Linked DNA regions of Homo sapiens: region 1 is linked to region 2. Evidence: fine-mapped expression QTL. A gene starts in region 2. The other region holds a variant in brackets. All regions are shown on one strand. Distances are between the middles of the regions. Region 1 overlaps TTLL11 (tubulin tyrosine ligase like 11). Region 2 holds the start of TTLL11 (tubulin tyrosine ligase like 11).

Evidence for each region. PIP is the estimated chance that this variant, and not a neighbour inherited with it, causes the effect.
Region 1: its variant is fine-mapped to the expression of TTLL11 in skeletal muscle (GTEx, PIP above 0.99).

What each region holds. Positions count from the first base shown.
Region 1 is chr9:122,034,365-122,044,826 of GRCh38, reverse strand. It overlaps TTLL11 (tubulin tyrosine ligase like 11), which reads left to right. Exons shown (of 9, transcript NM_001139442.2): 2 at 5,459-5,555. Among named protein-coding and RNA genes, the nearest start is that of TTLL11, 54 kb to the left of the region's middle. RefSeq lists an enhancer at 4,701-5,900. The variant C/T (reference allele first, on the strand shown) is at 4,632.
Region 2 is chr9:122,086,834-122,097,295 of GRCh38, reverse strand. TTLL11 (tubulin tyrosine ligase like 11) reads left to right here and starts at 3,988. Exons shown (of 9, transcript NM_001139442.2): 1 at 3,988-4,609. The coding sequence starts at 4,148. It overlaps LOC124902262 (a long non-coding RNA gene), which reads right to left. Exons shown (of 3, transcript XR_007061755.1): 2 at 8,783-8,939; 3 at 6,017-6,259. LOC124902263 (a long non-coding RNA gene) reads right to left here and starts at 3,164. Exons shown (of 2, transcript XR_007061757.1): 1 at 3,124-3,164; 2 at 1,896-2,122. RefSeq lists enhancers at 3,808-3,997, 3,747-4,460 and a silencer at 4,348-4,397.

The sequences.
Region 1 (10,462 bases), 52 kb after region 2:
GTTTTTGATAATAGTTATCCTAATGGGTATGAAGCAGTTTCTTATGATTTTGATTTGCAATTTTTTAAATGATTAATGATGTTAAATATCTTTTCATATGCTCATTGGCCATTAGTATATCTTAGGAGAAATGTCTATTCAGGACTTTTGTCCATTTTGTAAGTGTTTTTTCATTGTTGAGTTGTAGGAGTTTAAAAATATATTCTGCTCATCATCACTGGCCATCAGAGAAATGCAAATCAAAACCACAATGCGATACCATCTCACACCAGTTAGAATGGCGATCATTAAAAAGTCAGGAAACAACCGGTGCTAGAGAGGATGTGGAGAAATAGGAACACTTTTATACTGTTGGTGGGACTGTAAACTAGTTCAACCATTGTGGAAGTCGGTGTGGCAATTCCTCAGGGATCTAGAACTAGAAATACCATTTGACCCAGCCATCCCATTACTGGGTATATACCCAAAGGATTATAAATCATGCTGCTATAAAGACACATGCACACGTATGTTTATTGCGGCACTATTCACAATAGCAAAGACTTGGAACCAACCCAAATGTCCAACAATGATAGACTGGATTAAGAAAATGTGGCACATATACACCATGGAATACTATGCAGCCATAAAAAAGGATGAGTTCATGTCCTTTATAGGGACATGGATGAAGCTGGAAACCATCATTCTCAGCAAACTATCGCAAGGACAAAAAACCAAACACTGCACGTTCTCACTCGTAGGTGGGAATTGAACAATGAGAACACATGGACACAGGAAGGGGAACATCACACACCGGGGACTGTTGTGGGATGAGGGGAGGGGGAAGGGATAGCATTAGGAGATATACCTAATACTAAATGACGAGTTAATGGGTGCAGCACACCAACATGGCACATGTATACATATGTAACAAACCTGCACGTTGTGCACATGTACCCTAAAACTTAAAGTATAATAATAAAATAAAAAAAGAAAAGAAAAAAATATATATATATTCTGACTATTGATCTATTATCAAATATATGATTTTGCACATATTTTCTGCCATTCTGTGGGTTACCTTTTCACTCTGTTCATAGTGTCTTTTGATGAAAAAAAGTTTTTAATTTTTATCTTTGATTTACCTATTTTGTTTTTTGTTGGCTGTGCTTACGTTGTCATATCCAAGAAATCATTGCCAAATGCAGTGTTATGAAGCTTTTCTCCTATGTTTTCTATATTTCTAGTGTTATGAAGCTTTTCTCCTATATTTTCTGTATTTCTAGTGTTATGAAGCTTTTCTCATATGATTAGGCCTTTGATTTGGCTCATATGATTAGGCCTTTGATCTATTTTGGGTTAATTTTTGTATATGGTATAAGGTAAAGGTCCAACTTCATTCTTTTTGCACGTGGATATTCAGTTTTCCCAGCACCACTTGTTGAAAAGACTGCCCTTTCCCTATTGAATAGTCTTGTCATCCTTGTTGAGAATCATTTGATCACACCTGAGAGGCTTTATTTCTGAGCTATCCTATCCCACTGTCCTCTATATCTGTCTTTATGCCAGTACCACACTGATTTTTTTCATTTGTTTTTATTTTCATTTTTAAAGCATTTTTGGTTCACAGCAAAATTGAGCATATGGTGCAGAGATTTTCCCCCACCTGCATTGATAGCCTCCCCCACCATCAAAATCCTGAATCAGAGTGGTGTGTTTTTTACAACTGATGAAACTACACTGACATGTCATCATCACCCAAAGTCCATAGTTTACATTACTCTTCACTCTTGGTGCTATTCTATGGGTTTTGAAAAATGTATAATGACATGTATCTACCATTATAGTATCACACAGAGTATTTTCACTGCTCTAAAATCCTCTGTACTTCACCTATTCATCTCTTCCTCCCCTCGGGCCCCTGGCAAATACTGATCTTTTTACTGTCTCTGTAGTTTTGCCTTTTCCAGAATGTAGTTTAGTTGGAATCATACAGTATGTAGCTTTTTCAGATTGACTTATTCCATTTAGTAATATGCATTTAAGATTCCTCCATGTCTTTTGTGGCTTGACAGCTCATTTCTTTTTAGCACTGAATAATATTTCATTGTTTGGATATACTGTAGTTTATTTATCTACTCACCTACAGAAGGACTCACCTACTGAAGGACATCTCAGCTGCTTCCAAGTTTTGGCAGTTATGAATACAGCTGCTATAAACATTCATGTGCAGATTTTTGTGTGGATATAAGTTTTTCAACCCATTTGGATAAATACCGAGGAGAACTAATTGCTGGATTATATAATAAGAGTATGTTTAGTTTTGTAAGAAACTGCCAAACTGCCTTGTAAAGTGGCTTTACCATTTTGCATTTCCACCAGAAAGGAATGAGGGTTCCTGTTGCTCGACGTCCTTGCCAGCATTTGGTATGTCAGTGTTTTGGACTTTGGCCATTGTAATAGGTGCTGGTGGTATCTCATTGTGATTGTATACACTATTTGATTACTGTAGCTTTGTTTTTGGCATCAGGAAATGTGAGACCTCCAGCCTGGGCGCAGTGACTCACGCCTTTAATCCCAGCACTTGGGGAGGCCGAGGCAGGTGGATGGCCTGAGACCAGACTGGCCAACATGGCAAAACCCAGCCTCTACTAAAAATACAAGAATTAGCTGGGTGCGCTGGCATGTGCCAGTAATCCCAGCCACTCGGGGGGCTGAGGCAGAAGAGAAAGAATCACTTGATCCAGGAGGCAGAGGTTGCAGTGAGCTGAGATTGTACCACTGCACTCCAGCCTGGGTGATGGAAGAAGACTCTGTTTCAAAAAAAAAAAAAAAGGAAGTATGAGAACTCCACTTGGTTCTTTTTTTTTTTTTCAAGATTGTTTTTGCTATTTGGGGTCCCTTGTAATTCCATATGAATTTTAGGATGGATTTTTTTATTTTGAAAAAAAGTTATTGGGATTTTGATAGAGACTGCATTGCATCTGTAGACCATTTTAGGTAGTATTGACATCCTAACAATATTAACTCTTCCGGTCTATGAGCATAGGATATCTTTCTGTTTATTTGTATTAATATCTTCTTTAATTTCTTTTACAAATATTTTATAGTTTTCAGTGTACAAGTCTTTCACCTTTTTGGTTAATTCCTAAGTATTTTATTCTTTTTGATGCTATTATAAATGGAATTCTTTTAAAAAAAGGTCCTTTTTGGATTGCTCCTCATCATGTATGAAACACAGTTGATTTTTATGTGTTGATTTTGTATCCTGCAACTTTGCTGAATTTGTTTATTACTTTGAATATTTTTCTGTGGAATCATTAGAGTTTTCTACATATGGGATCATGTCATCAACAAACAGATAATTTTGCTTCTTATTTTCTAATGTGGACACCTTCTATATCTTTCTCTTGCCTATTCTGGCTAGAATTTATAATACTATGTTGATGTAAAATAAAAGTGGGCATCTTTGTCTTATTCCTGATCATGGTGGAAAAGCTTTAAAGCTTTTAGTATTTTACCATTGAGTATGATGTTAGCTGTGTAAGCGGACAGTTTTTAAAGGAGCTTAAAAAGAGGTAGGATTATGAAATCCTGGGACTTAATTAAAATTATATCCCCCATATTCCTAGCACCTAGTCTGGCATATAATAATTACTGAGTGAATGGACATGTTTTTAAAAATGGTAGTTTCTCAAAACTGAATGAGCTAAAGGTGCCTCTAAAAGGGGGGGCAATTTGGTATTCATGAGGGTGGTAAGCATTGAAGAGTGATGAAAAAGGAGATAAGAGTCATTGGGTTGCCCACTGACAAGGTGTTGGTTCCTCATTGTGGGCAACAAAGCAAAGCCACTTTACCCTTTGCTCGGATAGCCTGCTTAATTCTGGTTATTTTCTCCTTCTCTATATTAGCACTTAACAGCTAGAAGAAAATAACATATGTTGTATCTCATTGTATTTATGAGTACTGAATTAATAACTTACAGCCCATTGCATAAAAAGAAAATGAGCAAAATGCTGTAAATTATAGATGGAAGTTGTTAATGTGAGTAGAGTGTACAACATATGCCTCATTGTGCACAGCTTTGAAATAATGTGACTGATTTAAATGACTTGAGGCTGGCTTCATTTTAATGTGGAATGTATGGAAAGCATTGAGTCACCACCATTTCATTAGTAAGGCTATGTTCTTCCATTGGACCTTGGCCCCTCAACTTGAAGTAGATAAAAATTCTGATTACCTATAGTCCTAGAATGGGAAAATCAAAAGATTTTTATTTAATATGTTGGCATATCTATTTGTGTGCACTTTTAACAAGCAAATTCTGAATATGAACTAACATGGCCTCTCTTTTCTCCTTTAACAAGGTCATCTGAGTTACAGATTTAAAAAATATGTTCATTAAATGCAGAGCTTGTTGATAACTTTGAGAAGCAACAGGATGTAGTGGAAAGAACAGGCCCTTTTGTCTCGGTGAGAAATTTTCTGGCTTCAAATAATTGAAACTCTATAGCTTGTGCCAAACAAGATTTTAGAAGACCAAAAAGGTATTCTCAGGATACAAGGCTATCTTACAGGCTCACGCGGGTCTGAGGCCACTCAGTCTGAGTTTCTAGGGCTATGTTGTCTCATCTCTGCTTTCCCTCCCACA[C/T]CTGCTCCTTTCTTGTCTCTCAGCAGACTGGCTGTCTCTGCTCCTGTGCACATAGCCAAGCACAGCTGCCCTGCCCTGGCTTTTTATCCCTGCCAGTTCAAGGGCCAGCAGAGGCTGCCTGGCATCTCTGATTTCCAGATTCCTGGAAGAGAGAATCTGGTTATCTCATCTTGAGTCAGATGACCACTCCTGATTTGTTCATTTATTAATTCAGGAAGTCTTTACGAGTTTGGGGAACTGTTTTAGGCCCTGGGATTCATCTTACCCTCATGGAGCATATGTGTGTGTGTATGTGTGTGTGTGTGTGTGAGAGAGAGAGAGAGAGAGAGAGAGATAAGGGAAGAGGGACTCTGAAAGCTTATTCTTTTGGGCTCGGTTGAGGGTTGTAATTTTCAGAGGAAGGGATGTATGGGCTTGGAATTTGGATAGACCTGGACTCTAATCCTGGTTCCTCCCCTTACCAGCTCTGTGTGACCCTTGGGCATGTTAAATTACCTCTGTCAGCCCCAAGTTTTGAATCAGCAAAATGGGAGTAATCCTTTATAGGGTAGTTATAAGGATTAAAGTGAAATGGTGCCTGCAAAGCCAGGAGTGTAGTATCTGCCACATGTAATCAGAGCTCTACCACTTGGAACAAGTTATTAAACCTGTTTGAATCTGTTTCCTCATCTGTAAAATGGCAAAGAATATCACTTACCTCATATGCGTATTATAAGGATTAAACCATGGTAAGTACACCAGGGTGCCAGGAATTTGTACATAATGGATACTCAGTGTGGTCACTGCTCTTCTTATTCTTATTGCGAGTCACATTTTTTCTCTTCTAGTTCCCATTTGGCCGGCGCTTGCCTTGTGACATCTACTGGCATGGAGTTTCATTTCACGACAATGACATATTCTCCGGTCAAGTGAACAAGTTTCCAGGTATCTGCTGTTATTGTTGACATTTAAACATGTTTCTAGGGCCAAGTCTCAGATACACTCTTCTACTAAAACATGACAGTTATTTTTGAGATCAGATTTGAGGACTCTTAATTGGGAATTGCTGTGTTCACTAGCCATTAAGGTTTTAAGGATTGGAGACAGGCTTTTAAAGGTTCAAAGGCAGGCTTTCTTGGTCTAATGCCACTGGTGGAAGAACATGGTTTCCACTTTTTGGGTTATGCATATAATATGGGGTTCTAATGAGAGGAATATATTCTGAAAATGAAAAAATAATAGAACATTTCATTCTTGCGGGAAACAAAAGCACCAAAATTCTAGGCATATGTCATAGAAATGGGGTATCAGCTTCCCTTTTCTTTAAGTATTATATTTGGAGGTACCATTTTTAAAACCAAATATACTGGTCTCCATATTAAGTACTACAGGCTGCACACAGCCTCTGCCTTTTACCTAATGACATTATCTCAGCAAGACTTATCCTGCAAGGAGAAATCTTAGTGCTAGAAAAGCATCATAGCCAGCACTAAGATATCCCTCTCACTCCACTACCAACCTCCCAATACAACTTTTTTGTTTTGCATTTTAATCTCTACCACTTTTCTGAGATGGAGTCTCGCTTGGTCACTCATACTGGAGAGCAGCAGCACGATCTTGGCTCACTGCAACCTCTGCCTCCCAGGTTCAAGCAATTCTCCTGCCTCAGCCTTCCGAGTAGCTGGGATTACAGGCCTGTACCACCATACCCGGCTAATTTTGTATTTTTAGTAGAGACAGGGTTTTGCCATGTCACGTTGGCCAGGCTGGTCTCGAACTCCTGACCTCAAGTGACCCACCTGCCTCAGTCTCCCACAGTGCTGGGATTACAAGCGTGAGCCACTGTACCGGGTCTCTTCATTATTTTTGATGGCTGAATGAAGAGGATATTTAAGATGGTAGGACAGCTTAGGGAGAAGGAGCACTGGATTAAGCTGGGTATGATGCAGTCAAAGGGCCTTCCACTTATTTTTTAAAATGTTAATATATTACACAGACCATATTATAATGCCATAATAAATACTTTCTAAAAAGAACATCACCCTGAATCCCATATCTCATTTAACAAAACAGCAATATGAATATTTCTATATTTCCTCCCAAACCTTAAGCAAGTTTACTCATCCTTTTTGCATGGTTGCAGTCCTAGTGTAGTTGCCTAAATATAGGGTGTTTTCTCTTAGTATTTTATCAATTTTACCTATTTTAAAGGGAGAATCAATTTACTGTTTCCTTGACATTCTATCCCACGTCTTTAAGAAAACGCATTGCAGAAAACACAATAGCCATACGTTATACAGGGGGTGGTAGTTATGCCACATCCACTAGGGGTTTTCACCTAAGCATGCAGTCTTACAAGTTCACTACCATAGGCCACACTTAGCTCAGATTCACTTAGAAGGATACAGGGCAGGAAACACGGCTTGCTGGACAGTCAGTGTCAAGCATTTCTCTTCAGTGGAGTATTTGCAAGAGTTCCAGAGACTAGTCTCTGGCTCCTCAAGTGAAAGCTCAGGTGCAAAAGGACAAGATCCACATTGGTGGATATGAGTCTTTCTTGGCTTAGATGCCCCACAGAATCCAGTATCTTTTAGAACTGCTCCATAGTATGCCTTCTAAGGTCCAAGCAAGGGTCATATTAAGTTACAAGAATCATCGCACTCAGAAAAGCCTAGAGCAATGACTTTCTACTAGATATCTATGCAATTTACCAAATCAGGGATCATTTTAACCATATGCTTTGTGGCCTAGTAATTCAGCTAACATTCTACCTTCATTGTTTTCTAGGGGAACTGAGATAGAAAGTTAACCCAAGGTCAAATTTATCCTTAGAGAAGGAGAAAGGGTTTTGTTACAGAACAAGAATGATTCTTGCAGCCAGAGTTCTTACCCAACAGTTTAATGGGATAGCTATTATTTTTTGTGTCTTGCTGCTCAGAAAAGGATGCTTTGTGATGCCACTTAAAGGACTTATTAGGATATTGGGAGAATACAGTTTGGAAGAGAAAACGCTTTGAATGAGGACAGAGTTCCTAAGACATGAATCATCAAATGAGGCCTCATTTACATTTTCCCCATTTGCTCATGCCTCATCTAGTGTCTCAGAGTAGGAAAGAAGTAGCTATAGATCTACATTTGGAATACAAATTAGAAATATAGAATGAAGTACCCACAAAGGATTAGTTTCATAAAGGTGATAGAATGATATTCATTCCAAAGAAGCAAGTTTGCCCCATCCCATATTCCACATGCCGGTGATTGGAACATAGACTTTTCCACATTATTAACAGAAATTAATTAGTTCTAATGACAAAGCAGACTCTTAAACCTCTAGGCAGAGGAACAGTGCTGCCACACCCTCTACCCTGTGAAAGGTAGTAATCCTCAGCAGAGGGGTAATTCCAGAACAGTCTGGCCTCTGATACCAGTTTGTGTCCAAGCTTATCTTCTGTCTCTCATATATCTCATTATTCTAAAATGCACTTTCTATACATTGTATATTACTTAGGGTAAGTTCTAGTGGATATCCCAGGCAAGTGTAAACGCTTTATTTGCTGGGTCAACTGAGAACGGATATATACAGATGGAAGTGATTAATTTTGTTTGTGTCAGCACATTAGATTTTAGTCACTTTTCTATGGGTAATTTCCTGGTTCAAATTACATTATTATATTTTGGCTGATGAATTAAGACTTTCTATGAAAATAATCTGATTTAGATACGTCTAAAGAAAGTAGATTATTAGATATGTCTACTTTCTTTAGACGTATCTAAATCAGACATGTCAGATTAGACATATCAGATTTAGCTTTAAGAAAGTCCAAAACTGTCCATTCTCAGGTTCTGAGCAGGTCTTTTGCTGAGTTTCAGGGTCTGAGATGTATGGCATCACATGGCAGGTGGTACCTGAGAGCCCACCTGAGGAGGGGGCTTTCTGCTGGAGAGGGAGGGAGCTTCAGTGAGGAACCTGTGGGGACAGCCATCTGTCAAGCATTGGTCTGGGCTCTGGGGCTATAAAGACACAGAGAAAGGCATGTAAAGAGAGAAGAAAAATACAGCCTAGGGGCTTTGCTGGAGGAAGCTGGAATGCTGTGGGGGTCCGGAGCAAGGGCGGGCAACCTAACCCAGATTTGCCCAGGGAGCAGCAGGGTGAGAGCTCCTGGAGAACAGGACTGGCATGGAAACTGAGCCTCCAGGATGGATGGGCCTGATCCCCATGCCAAACAAGGGAGCAGAGTTGGTGCAAAGACAGAATGCCTTCAGCATATTACTCGTTCATCGAAGGGCAAGTGGCCTACCATGGTTAGAGGGCGTCAGGTGAGCAGGGCAGGGGAGGGGTGATGAGTAGGAACCCAACTACAGCATTGTTAGAGCCTGAAGGTCATAGGGAGCCACTGAGGAATTTTTAAGCCAGACAGTGACACGGGTCAGCTTGCATGTTAGCAAGATCAGCCAGAGGGACACATTAGAAATGAGATGGCTCAGAGAAGAAACAGAGATGTAGCTAAGAGTCTGCTGCAGCATCCACCCAAGAGATGAATGAATTAGTGGCAATCAGAATAGAGAGAACAGGATGGATCTGAAAGGATTTATTTGTTGTTTGGTGGTTCTAATATGTTTTTGCCAAGAATTATTGTTATAAATAATATTTTGATTGAATAGTGCTCCAAGTATAGCTCAGTTTTAGTTTGTTTTGTTTTACATTAACTGGGTTAAGTAGGGCTGCATGGGCAAACCTGAGGTTGAACTGTTATGCTGTCAGTTAACTTGAATGGGGTGAGACCCACCAGGCCTTGAGACTCCAGCGTAGCAGACAGAAAAGCCCAGGCCTCAGAAGGAGGGGCAGGAGGTAAGCCCTTGGTGTCAGAAACTCCCACCTGAATTAGGAGGTTTTCCCAATCGATAGGGGAACTGCCCTCATAGGGACATCTAGGGATAGACCTTATTGAGAAACCTAGGTGGGCAGTCAACCTCAAAAGGAGCTGTTAGGTAGCAGGACCCCAGACACTGGGTGAAAGTCACAGACAGGAGGATTCCAGCCCTTGCAGGGTGGGCTTGAGGGGAACAGAGGAGAGGTTGGAGAGAGGAGGGGCATTGGAGAGAACAAAGAAAAGGACGCAGCTCTGCATTGCTAAGGCAGCCACTCAGGCTCCAGGAGCAAAAGATAAGGTCACCAACATTTGGATACAAGCAATAGAACACCGGAAAAATGGGTAAAATCCTTCTTATCTGGTTGGAATACATAGTCTAGGTCAGACTTTTAGCAGAAGGGAGCTGGGGGTTAGACCTAGAGCTTCGATCTCAGTTCAGAATTGGTCCTAGAGCCCAGGGAGGGGACACAGGTGACGAGGGGTCAGGCGCTGCAGCTGCTTAGGGAAAGGGGACAGGGCCTGGAGCCAGTAGGGCCTGAAGTCAGCAGAGCTGGCCATGACCTTCCTTCTCACAGATTTACTCTGGGAACGCGTGCCCTGGATCAGCTAGAAACCCTGCTACGCTTGTCAGGGTCATAATGGAGAAGTTGCCACTCCCACACCTGTCTCTGAGCCACCTCCAGAGGTGGAGATGCCAGGAGCTTCCATGTGGGTTCTAGTGAGGGGCCAGAAACTCTTTCCCTGGTGGCACTGGATAGGAGCACAGCTTAGATATGGAGGAGCAAAGGTTTGGTGCTAAGTGGATTGAGAGAAGTCTACACCCGTCCCTCCTGGAGACAGGCATTCAGGCAGGTTTGGAGTGAGCTGCCTCCGGCCTGCAGGCAGGAAGTGCCTGGCTTCCAGGGGTGCTTCTTAAGTTGGCCATTTTCAGTAGAAAAACTGCCTGGAGACATGAAGGTAAACTTGGAAACACCTATTAGC
Region 2 (10,462 bases):
GGCCTCCATGAGCCCTGGGAGTCTTTAAGCCAATGGGCAAAAGCACCCCCATCCCATGGCCAAAGCCATGATGGGTGAGGCTTTGCACACATTGGATTTCAACGCCCGCAAGGCCTCTTGCATGACTGCAGCAGCCCTATCCATAGCTCTTCAGTGACCACCCCACCTAGCTTTCTATCAACCTGATTCCTACTCCACCTCGAAGACTCAGCTTATAGTCTCTCTCTTATAGGAAGCCTGGTCTAGCTTTCTAATTCACAGTAAATTCTCTATTTCTTGAGCTACTGGATGAATTTTATTTTTTACTCTTTGCCTCATTGGCACTTAATCATATACTCCCTCATGACACCTCCTATTTTCCTCTCTTGCATAATTATTTCATCTGAATAAGTCTGACTTAGATGAAGAGATCAGAGGTATCTGTGCAGATGTATCATTTACACTGAATAATGAAGGAGCAGTAGCCAGAGATCTAAAGAAAGGCAGAGGGCATGTGCAAAGGCCCTGAGGCAGAAGAGGTCTCGGGATGTGAAGCCAAAATGAATATTTCTATATGGGATTGTCCTTACAGATTTGACATATGAGGCTGAAAATGACTCATTCATTAATACATCCATACTACTTTGTTCATACTACCATGAACAAAGCAAGGGCCACTGTGTTCCAAGACCCAAGAGATGGGGATACAGAGATGAATCAGACAAGATTTGTTCTTGCCCAGACTAATGGTGGAGGCTGAGATGATTTCTAGATAGTGTGACAGACAGACCAGGGTTGAGAGTTGTGGATGAGAATTATGGGTGTGAATAGAAGAGCACAGAGAGTAACTATTTCTGCCTGAGGCACTGGGAAAAGTTTGTCTAAGAACAGACATGAAGGAAGGGAAGTCCAGACAGAAGGAACAATGTTTACAAAGGCATGGAGGCAGGGAGAGGGGTTGATTTCAGAAATTGTAATCAGGAAGGGCCTCTTAGGACAATCAATGTTCTTGGACTTTATCTGTAGATGGTGACAAACCAGGGGAGGTTTCTAAGCAGGAGAGTGGCAGGTCTGGTGTGGAGAATGGGTGGGTGTGTGGCAGAGCTGGAGGTGAGCTATCAGCAGAAGCCTGAATTGGGGTGGTGATGATAGAGATAGATAAGAGAGGAAAGAGGAGATCTCTCTCTCTCTCTCTCTTTTTCTCTCTCGAATGAGTCTCGCTCTGTTGCCCTAGGCGTGCAGTGGCGCGATCTCAGTTCACTGCAGCCTCTGCCTCCTGGGTTCATGAGTTTTGTGCCTCAGCCTCCCGAGTAGCTGGGATTACAGGCATATGCCATCATGCCCAGTTTTTATATATATATATATATATATATATATATATATATATATATATATATATGTTTTTTTTTTTTTTTTTTTTTTTTTTTTGAGACCGAGTCTCACTCTGTCGCCCAGGCTGGAGTGCAGTGGCGCGATCTCGGCAAATTTCAAGCATGGATGACTGAATGAAGGTAGTGCCACTTGCTGAGATCAAGGACACCAGGAGGAGGGACAGGATTTGGGGGGTAGGTTTGTGGAGAGAAATGGGGGGACAGTGAGGCCTTCTTACTGATACCACGGACAGCTCCAAGAATTTCCAGAGGACTTGCATCAGACTCTATGAGTGGTTCTTGCCTCCGCTGCCTTAGAATCAGCGGAGGAGCTAATTTAACATGCAGATTCCCAGGTCCACCCAGATGTGCTGCATCACAGTCTCTGGGGGTGGGGTCCAGGAGCCTGCATTTTAAATAAACACCCCGGGTTGTTCCCATGCAAGTGGCCAGACGACCATGCTTACAGAAACTCTGAAACAAAGTCATGAAGGGAACAGATGCGAGCGCCCTCTGCTGCTAAAAAGGAGGTTTGGATCTCTTAAGTTTATGACTTGGACATTTCAAGGCAGTTTATTCAGCAAGTGAAACCCCTGGACTAAAGCAAAGAAACAAGACACCTGGAGAGATGAGAGAGGAAGAGGGGCCACGTTCCTTGACAACTTCTGTGTTTCTTTCACCCTGTAGTGTCGAGCGAGGCAAAGTTCCCCTGTGTGCAGTCGTGGCCGCTGTGGTCAGTCTGGGGTGCTGTTACACCTTCTCAACCCCACTTCCTAAAAAAACAAATGCGGCTCCCTCAGGTGGGAGGGGAGAGCTTTCTCCTTGGTTTGGCTTTAAAATGATGGCAACTCCCAAAAATGGAAAGCAGGGGCTCAAACAGGTATTTGTATACCAATGTTAACCGACATTCTTCACAATAGCCAAAAGGTGGAAACAACCTAAGTCCATTGACAGATGAATGGATAAAAACGAGGTGGTGTATGCACACGACGAAATATTTTTCAGTCTTAAAAATGAGTGAAATTTGGACTCATGCTACAACATGGAGAAACCTTGAGGACATTATGCTACGTGAAATAAGCCAGACAAATACTGTATGATTCCACTGACATGAGGAACCAGGAATAGTCAAATTCATAGTCAGAAAGTAGAAATGGTGGTTCCCAGGGACTAGGAGAGAAGGGAATCCCGACTTATTGTTTCATAGACACAAAGTTTCAGTTTGGTAAGATAAAAGAGTTCCGGAGACCCATAGTGGTGCTGGTTGCACAACAATGTGAGTATACAGAATGCCACTGAATTGTACACTAAAAATGGTTAAAATGGCAAATTTTGTTATATTTTACCACAACAAAAAAAGTGATATAAGTAAAAGCAGTCAGGCTGGACGTGGTGGCTCACGCTTGTAATCTCAGCACTTTGGGAGGCTGAGGCGGGTGGATCATCTGAGGTCGGGAGTTAGAGACCAGCCTGGCCAAGATGGTGAAACCCCGTCTATACTAAAAATACAAAAAATTAGCCGGGCATGGTGGCCGGCTCCTGCAATCCCAGCTACTCACAAGGCTGAGGCAGGAGAATTGCTTGAAGCCGGGAGGCGGAGGCTGCAATGAGCCGAGATCACACCATTGCATCCCAGCCTGGGCGACAAGAGCGAAACTCTGTAACAACATCAACAACAACAACAAAACAAAAACAAAAACAAAAAAGAAAACAAGAGACGCGGTGGTTCTGCTTGTAATCCTAGTACTTTGGGAGGCCGAGGCTGGCAGATTACCTGAGGTCAGGAGTTTGAGAACAGCCTCGGCAACATGGCGAAACCACGTTTCTACGAGAAACACAAAACTTAGCCGGGAGTGGTGGTACATTCGTGTAGTCTCAGCTACTCGGGAGGTTGGGGTGGGAGGATCCCTTGAGCTCTGGAAGTTGAGGCTGCTGCAGTGAGCCGGGATCGCGCCACTGCACTCCAGCCTGGGCGACAGAGAGAGACCCTGTCTAAAAAAAAAAAAAAAAAAGAAAAAAAGAAAAGAAAAAGAAAAAATCGTTAATATCCTCAACTCGAGTGGGAATCTATAGGGGGCTTACCCATGCCCATGACTTCCCCATCCCATCGGGAGCTCCCTGAGAACAGGGAAAAGTGCCTCCCCTCTTATCTGGGGGCGCTCAAAGGACCAGCAGAGGGTTTCTTCAGCGGAACACTCTCTGCTCCCCTAGGGCCTGGGCTGCTCACATCCATCGCACTGAGGAGGGTCCCATCCATTGCACTGAGGAGGGTCCCATCCATTGCACTGAGGAGGGTCCCACTGGGGGGCTCCTCCTCCGTCCTATCGAGAGTTATCCCAGCGAGTGTTGGCGGGGACTGAGCCTCCTGCTTGAGGTAGTTGTTTTTACTCCCAGTCCCCAGGCTCACGAGCCCCACGCGCGCTCAATCTGCCCTCCCGCTTCTCCTCGCCACTCCGAGTTCTGCGCCCTCGAGATCCAGCGCATCCGCGGGGTGGGCGGGTCCTGGCGGCTCTTTGCCCTCTTCCAACATGGCCGCCGCTGCCTCTGTGACAGGCAGGGTCACGTGGGCAGCCTCGCCTATGAGGTCGCTGGGGCTCGGCCGGCGATTGTCCCTTCCCGGACCCCGTCTCGATGCGGTGACTGCCGCTGTCAACCCGAGCCTGAGCGATCATGGCAACGGGCTCGGGCGGGGAACGCGTGGCAGCGGCTGCAGCGGCGGCAGTTTGGTGGCGGACTGGGGCGGCGGAGCGGCGGCGGCGGCGGCGGTGGCACTGGCACTGGCCCCGGCCCTGAGCACCATGCGGCGGGGCAGCTCCGAGAGCGAGCTGGCGGCCCGGTGGGAGGCGGAGGCGGTGGCTGCGGCCAAAGCGGCGGCCAAAGCTGAGGCCGAGGCCACAGCGGAGACGGTGGCGGAACAGGTCCGCGTGGACGCGGGCGCGGCCGGGGAACCGGAGTGCAAGGCAGGGGAGGAGCAGCCCAAGGTCCTGGCCCCGGCCCCGGCGCAGCCCAGTGCGGCTGAGGAGGGGAACACCCAGGTCCTTCAGCGGCCGCCGCCCACGCTGCCCCCGTCCAAGCCGAAGCCGGTGCAGGGCCTCTGCCCGCACGGGAAGCCCCGGGACAAGGGCCGAAGCTGCAAGCGGAGCTCGGGCCACGGTTCCGGCGAGAACGGCTCCCAGCGGCCGGTCACCGTGGACAGCTCCAAGGCCAGGACCTCCCTGGATGCCCTGAAGATCAGCATCCGCCAGCTCAAGTGGAAGGAGGTGAGGCCCGGCCCGACCCGGCCGCGTGGGCACAGTGGGGTGGACAGGACGACCTCAGAGGTCTCGGCACGGCCCAGGTCAGGTCGGCGGGCGAGGGCTGAGCTCCTGCGGTGCACCACGCTCGGGCCTGCTTGTCAGCCGCAAAGTGCTCATCCTTCAAGGCCTACCCCCCAAAATCACTTCCTCCAAGAGGGCCCCCCAGACCCCTCCAGGTCAAGTTAGCCACTCACTCCTCTGCCTCCCTGCAGCTCTTTTTATGTCTCAGCCATCAGCATTTGCCTCTGCTTGTAGATATGTGTACGTCTGTCTCCTCCACCAGCTTGTAAGCCCCTGGGGCCCCGGACCCGCTCTCTCACTTCTTCATTGAAGTTATATTTGTTTAGCACTTGCTGTGTGACTCTTGGGCAGAGGAACACTTTTTATTTTGGAGGCAGACAGGCCTAGGGTCTCACTACACTTTGCTACTTAGCTGTGTGACCTTGAGTAAGTTGCTTCACCTCTTCAGCCTATTACCTTCTCTGTAAAGTGAGGCCAATTATACTTATCTCATCATCTTGTTAGCATTAGAAGACTCACTACTTAGTGTTTTATAGCACAAGTCTGCAATAAATGGTAACTTACGTTACCACCTTCTCCTTTCTCTCTTCTTCCACCATCATCACCATCACCACCACCAGCACCACCACTGTCCTCATGATCAGTGGTATAAAATCAGGCACTGTATTTTATATTCCAGGCTTGGCTTACGGCATGTGTCAGTAAGCAGTGAATGAAAGGGTGAATGAATACATGAGTTATCATCCCTGAGCCCATTTTAGACTGGCAGGGGATGGAATGTAGCACCAGTGACTCTAGAGGTGTCTGTTGCAATTGGCTACGTGGATAAAGCCATTTGACTTTATTTGCAGCATATAAGGTATTTAATGTGCTTTCAGGAGTGTCAGGAGTTTGATTAAGGATAGCTGAGTGTGGACACAGCCAGTGGTAACAGGGATCTGCTGCGGGTAACAGAGGACTCAGGTTCTTAGCCCTGTGCCTTGGCTATGGTAGATGCTCGGTAATGGTTTCATTAAGTTGGAACATACAGAGAGATGGCCACAGAAAGGACTGATGTGGTCAGAGGGTTGATGTCCCAATAGGAAAAAGTGCATTTGGTTTGGAGGGAAGTCAAGGATCAGGCAGAACCGACTTCCAGGTGGATAGGGTGTAGCCGTTGGGGAAGTTTGACTCCAAGTGTCTGGGCCCCCAGCCTTGGGGCTTGGGATTCAGAGGGGAACTTTCATGCTGGGGAAACTTGGGGAAAACAAAGGCAGGCTCTCAGTTCTAAAGTATCTGGGTTTCTAGGCAGGGCCCCAGGTCCAGGCCAGAGATATGAGGGCTAGAAAAGGTACAACTGGACAACTTGTCAGTGCCGTGGTCTTAATGAAGGGAGAATCCAGCAAATAAAACCAGGCTATGGAGTCAGGCTAGGCAGATTGGCCCAAGTGGGGCCTCCACTTAGCTTATCCCTGTGGGAGAGAGAGACATAAAGCAGGCCAGATCTCGTTTGCTCGGAGAGATGGGGCCAGATGGACTAATACATCCCAGCCCAGGTTCGTTCACTCATTCCGTAAATGTCCACTTTGGAGGTGCCAAGTTCTTTGCTGGGCCCTGGGAACCAAACATACTTAAGATGTGACCCTTGCCCCCAAGGACTTCATGGTTCAATAGGGAATAAAACACAAGTAAAGGAATAATTGCGGTCATTACAGGTCATTACATTGCTGCTGCATCCTGAAATTCTCCCTTTTCATTTATTTGCATGGCTTACTCTTGTCACTTCTTTAGATGATACCTTCCCCATCAATCTCCAGCCCTTGGTATTTATTTTTTTTCCATAGTACTAAACTTCGCCAGGCATTATATTATGTATTGCTTGTTTATTGTCGTTTCCCTCACTAGAATGTAAGCTCCATGAGGGCAGGGGCTTTGTTTTGTTTATTGCTGTACCCGCAGGTACTTGGCACACAGAAGTTGCTCAATAAATATTCGTTGAATGAATGAATACATTATGTGATGAGTGTTTCTGTGTGAAAGGAGAAATGCTGCGGGAGGTAGAGGAGGGGCACCCAGGAAGGACTTCCTGGAGGAAATAAACCCGAGCTGAGTTGTGAGTGCTGAAAATGAACTGGAGTTATTTAGGGTCATGGACTTTGGATCCCTGGTTGCAGGAGTGGTGTGGGCAAAGCAGAGGCCCTTTCAGGACTTTGAGTATGGCCGGATCATAGCGTGGGAGGTGGAGTGGTAAGAGATGGGGCTTCAGAAATGAGCAGGGATCAGATCATGTGCCATGCGATGGGATTTGGACCTGTTTTGGGGAGGAAGGCTATGTGAGCCATTAACAGAATTTTGATGTTCTTCCATTTATCAGGGCAAGTCAGTTAAACCCTTGAGGCCTCAGTTTGCTTATCTGTAAAGTAGGGGTGGACAGAGCTAATTCAGCAGTTTCCAGTCTTTCTACTTCGGTAGCCGCATAATGGTAATGTTGATCTACTCTCTACTTCGGTAGCCGCATAATGGTAATGTTGATCTACATGAGACTGTTGCACTGGTCACCCCCAGTGGGTAGGCTTTTTCCAAGGCACTACCTGTAACTGCTTCTTCCACCTCCAACCCTGCCCTTTTTTTCCCACTCAGAGAACACATTGGCATATAGGTGGAGATGTTTATTCTAGTATATTTTAAAACATAATTCACTGAATGTGGTGGCTCATGCCTGTAATTCCACCTACTTGGGAGGCTGAGGTGGGAGGATCACTTGAGTCCAGGAGTTCAAGGATGCAGTGAGCTATGATTGTGCCACTGCACACCAGCCTGGGTGACAGAGCAAGACCCTGTCTCTAAAAAAAATATTGAAAATTAAAAAAACAATTCACTTGCAACAATAAGACTCTACTATTAGGCTTGTGATTATTACTGTCACCCTTCCTCATTACTGCATGAAGTCCTGAGGGCAGGGGTGGTATCTGACTTATGTCCCTAATGCACAGCATATTCTAGGTGCTCAATAAATATTCATCAAATGAATTATGGAATATTTGCAAGAGAGCTTACATCACATCTTGACACCCTAGTGTGGAGGTTGAAAAGTGCCAGAGTAGCTAAACTTTAAAGTTCCTTCCTGCTTTAAACTATGATTATAGTATTCTTAGTACCTCCTACAAAGTTGACTGCATGAAAACTAACATATATATATATCCCTGGTACTAACAAAGTGCAAACACATGACCTTTCTTATGCCTGCCTTTCCCCATCTGTTATGAGGTGATATTGGATGAGATCATCTTGAACTCCCAGCGCTGTTTTAGGAGCAAGAACTTCTACTGGGGGCTGTGGTGCAAGGGTGTGAGCAACAGTATCTCTTGCAGCCCATGCTGTGTTGCTGTGGGTTTGGGGAGTACTCAGGTGGCTGGCTTTGGTGGGAGTGGATGAGTAGCCCAGGTAAGAAATAAGGTCATGAACACCAACCAGAGTGAGAGCTGTGTCTCCTTTTATGGGTGCATAGTGAGGAGCTATATATCACCGTCCACTTTAACAGGGTAGGACTGAGCCAGCATGTGAATTCAGAAGTTTGCTCAGCTGCAGGGCACACAATCTCGCTTCCTTTTTCACTTTTTTTTTTTTTTTTTTTGAGACAGGGTGTCGTTCTGTCATCCAGGCTGGAGTGCAGTGGTGCTATCTTGGCTCACTGCACTCTCACTACAACCTCTGCCTCAGAGGTTCAAGCAGTTCTCCTGCCTCAGCCTCCTGAGTAGCTGAGATTACAGGCATGTGTCACCATCCCTGGCTAATTTTTGTATTTTTAATAGAGATGGGGTTTCACCATGTTGGCCAGACTGGTCTTGAACTCCTGACCTCAAGTGATCTGCCTGCCTCGGCCTCTCAAAATGCTGGGATTACAGGCGTGAGCCACCACCCCTGGCTCCTTTTTCACTTTTCCTTATTCCACATATATTTAACAACAACAACAACATGATAATAAATCTTTATATAGCTCTTACTCTGTTCCAGGTGCTGTTTTAAGTGCTCTACATATATACAATTGTTTGATTCTCCCAACAGCTCAGTAAAGTAAATGCCTTATTGTGTCCGTTCTACATATGAGAACATGGAAATACACAGAGGTTAACTTACCTGAGGCCACATAGCTAGTAAGGGACAGAGCTAGCATTTGAAATATGCATTCCATTTGAAACCAGGCTTCAATTCTGTGCTCTCTATTGGTAAACACTGGGCTGGAGGTCGCAGATGTAGATGTGAACAGGATACACTCCTTGCCCTCCAGGAGCTCCTGGTGTAGGAGGAGGAATACATGCAAACAAACAGTTACAGTTTGGTCTGGGAGGTGAGTGATTCAAGGATGTTCCATACAGAGTAGGAACAACAAGGCAGGCAGTATGGACCAGGTTTTACATGCAGGATGGGATGATGGCAGCTGAGGGAGCATATGGGGGAGTGGAGAGCGATGAAGAAGCCAGATCACAGAGCATGGTGAAGGCCATGCCAAGAAGCTTGCGCTTCTGACTGAATTTAATCACAGATTGCTTGCCATATATAGACCCGGCCTCCCTTGCCCACTCTCCTTCAGTCCCAAGTGAACCATGCCAGCCCTCAGATGATTCAGTTTGCAGTCATACCCGTTCTGGCCAGGTCTAATTTAACTGCGTCCACAATGTTAAATTTGTTTCTGAAAGGGAAGGATCACAGATGTTAGCTCTGTAAACTTGTAGACAAGACTGGAGTTACTCTCAAATAGCAAAATCATGTTTACAGAGTCACCACTGATGTTGCAACATGAAAGAAAGGCATGGTTTCTGGTTCACCGCAGATGCTCAATGTTTATGGATTTGTATGGTCTTCTTCCCATCCTGTGAAGACTCCCCATCTCCCATGGATGCTTCTGTCATTTTGCTACCCTCATGAAAAAACACCTTAGAGGAAAGACACCATAGAGAGTAGACGCCACTTTTGTTGTGAGCTGCCCTCTTTGGAGATGTAGGTTGTGTTTATGTGCACAGTGGTGCCATGGCCACCAGCTAATGTGAATGAGGGCCCTGAGAGATTTCATAGCGGGACCTTTGTTGATGATAGTTTGAATAAGCCCCTGTCCTGAGATCTATTATAGTATAAAGTCTTTGTTTCAGAGACTCCAAATCATGCATTGTTCCCTGAAATTTATCCAGCCTTTCTTTAGAACAAGTATACACTTACTATATTGTCCTACTTACAACTTGTATAATATTAGTTACTGTTTATTAAATAGGGGTTATGTGCAAGGCATTGTACTGTTTTATGCTCGTGAAAAATTGTATTGAGAGGCTGAGGCACGAGAATTGCTTGAACCCGGGAGGCGGAGGTTGCAGTGAGCTGAAATCGCACCACTGCACTTCAGCTGGGATAACAGAGTGAGACTCTGTCTCAAAAAAAAAAAAATTGTATTGAGTATTTACTATGCATTATTTATTTAATCCTTGCAAAAACCCTCTAAAATAGACTGCACTGTCATCTTCAACTTACAGATGAGGGAACTGAGGCTTAGAGAGGGGCCGGTACAGGGCCAGCCCATGGCCACACAGATAACCAGTGGCAGAGCCATCCAGGGCCTGGGCTTGTAGCCAGTTTTCAATCATATACCTTCTTCTTTGCTAATCCTTTGCAAAAACCATTCTGCAAGGAGTTATTCTATTATCATCACTATCATCATTACTATTCTCAAGTAACAGCAGAAGAAACTGAGGTGGGCACAGCAAGTAAGTGAGAAAGTCAGGGTTCAAACAGTAGCCTTTTTTTGTTCCAAAACCCACTTTTAAGTGT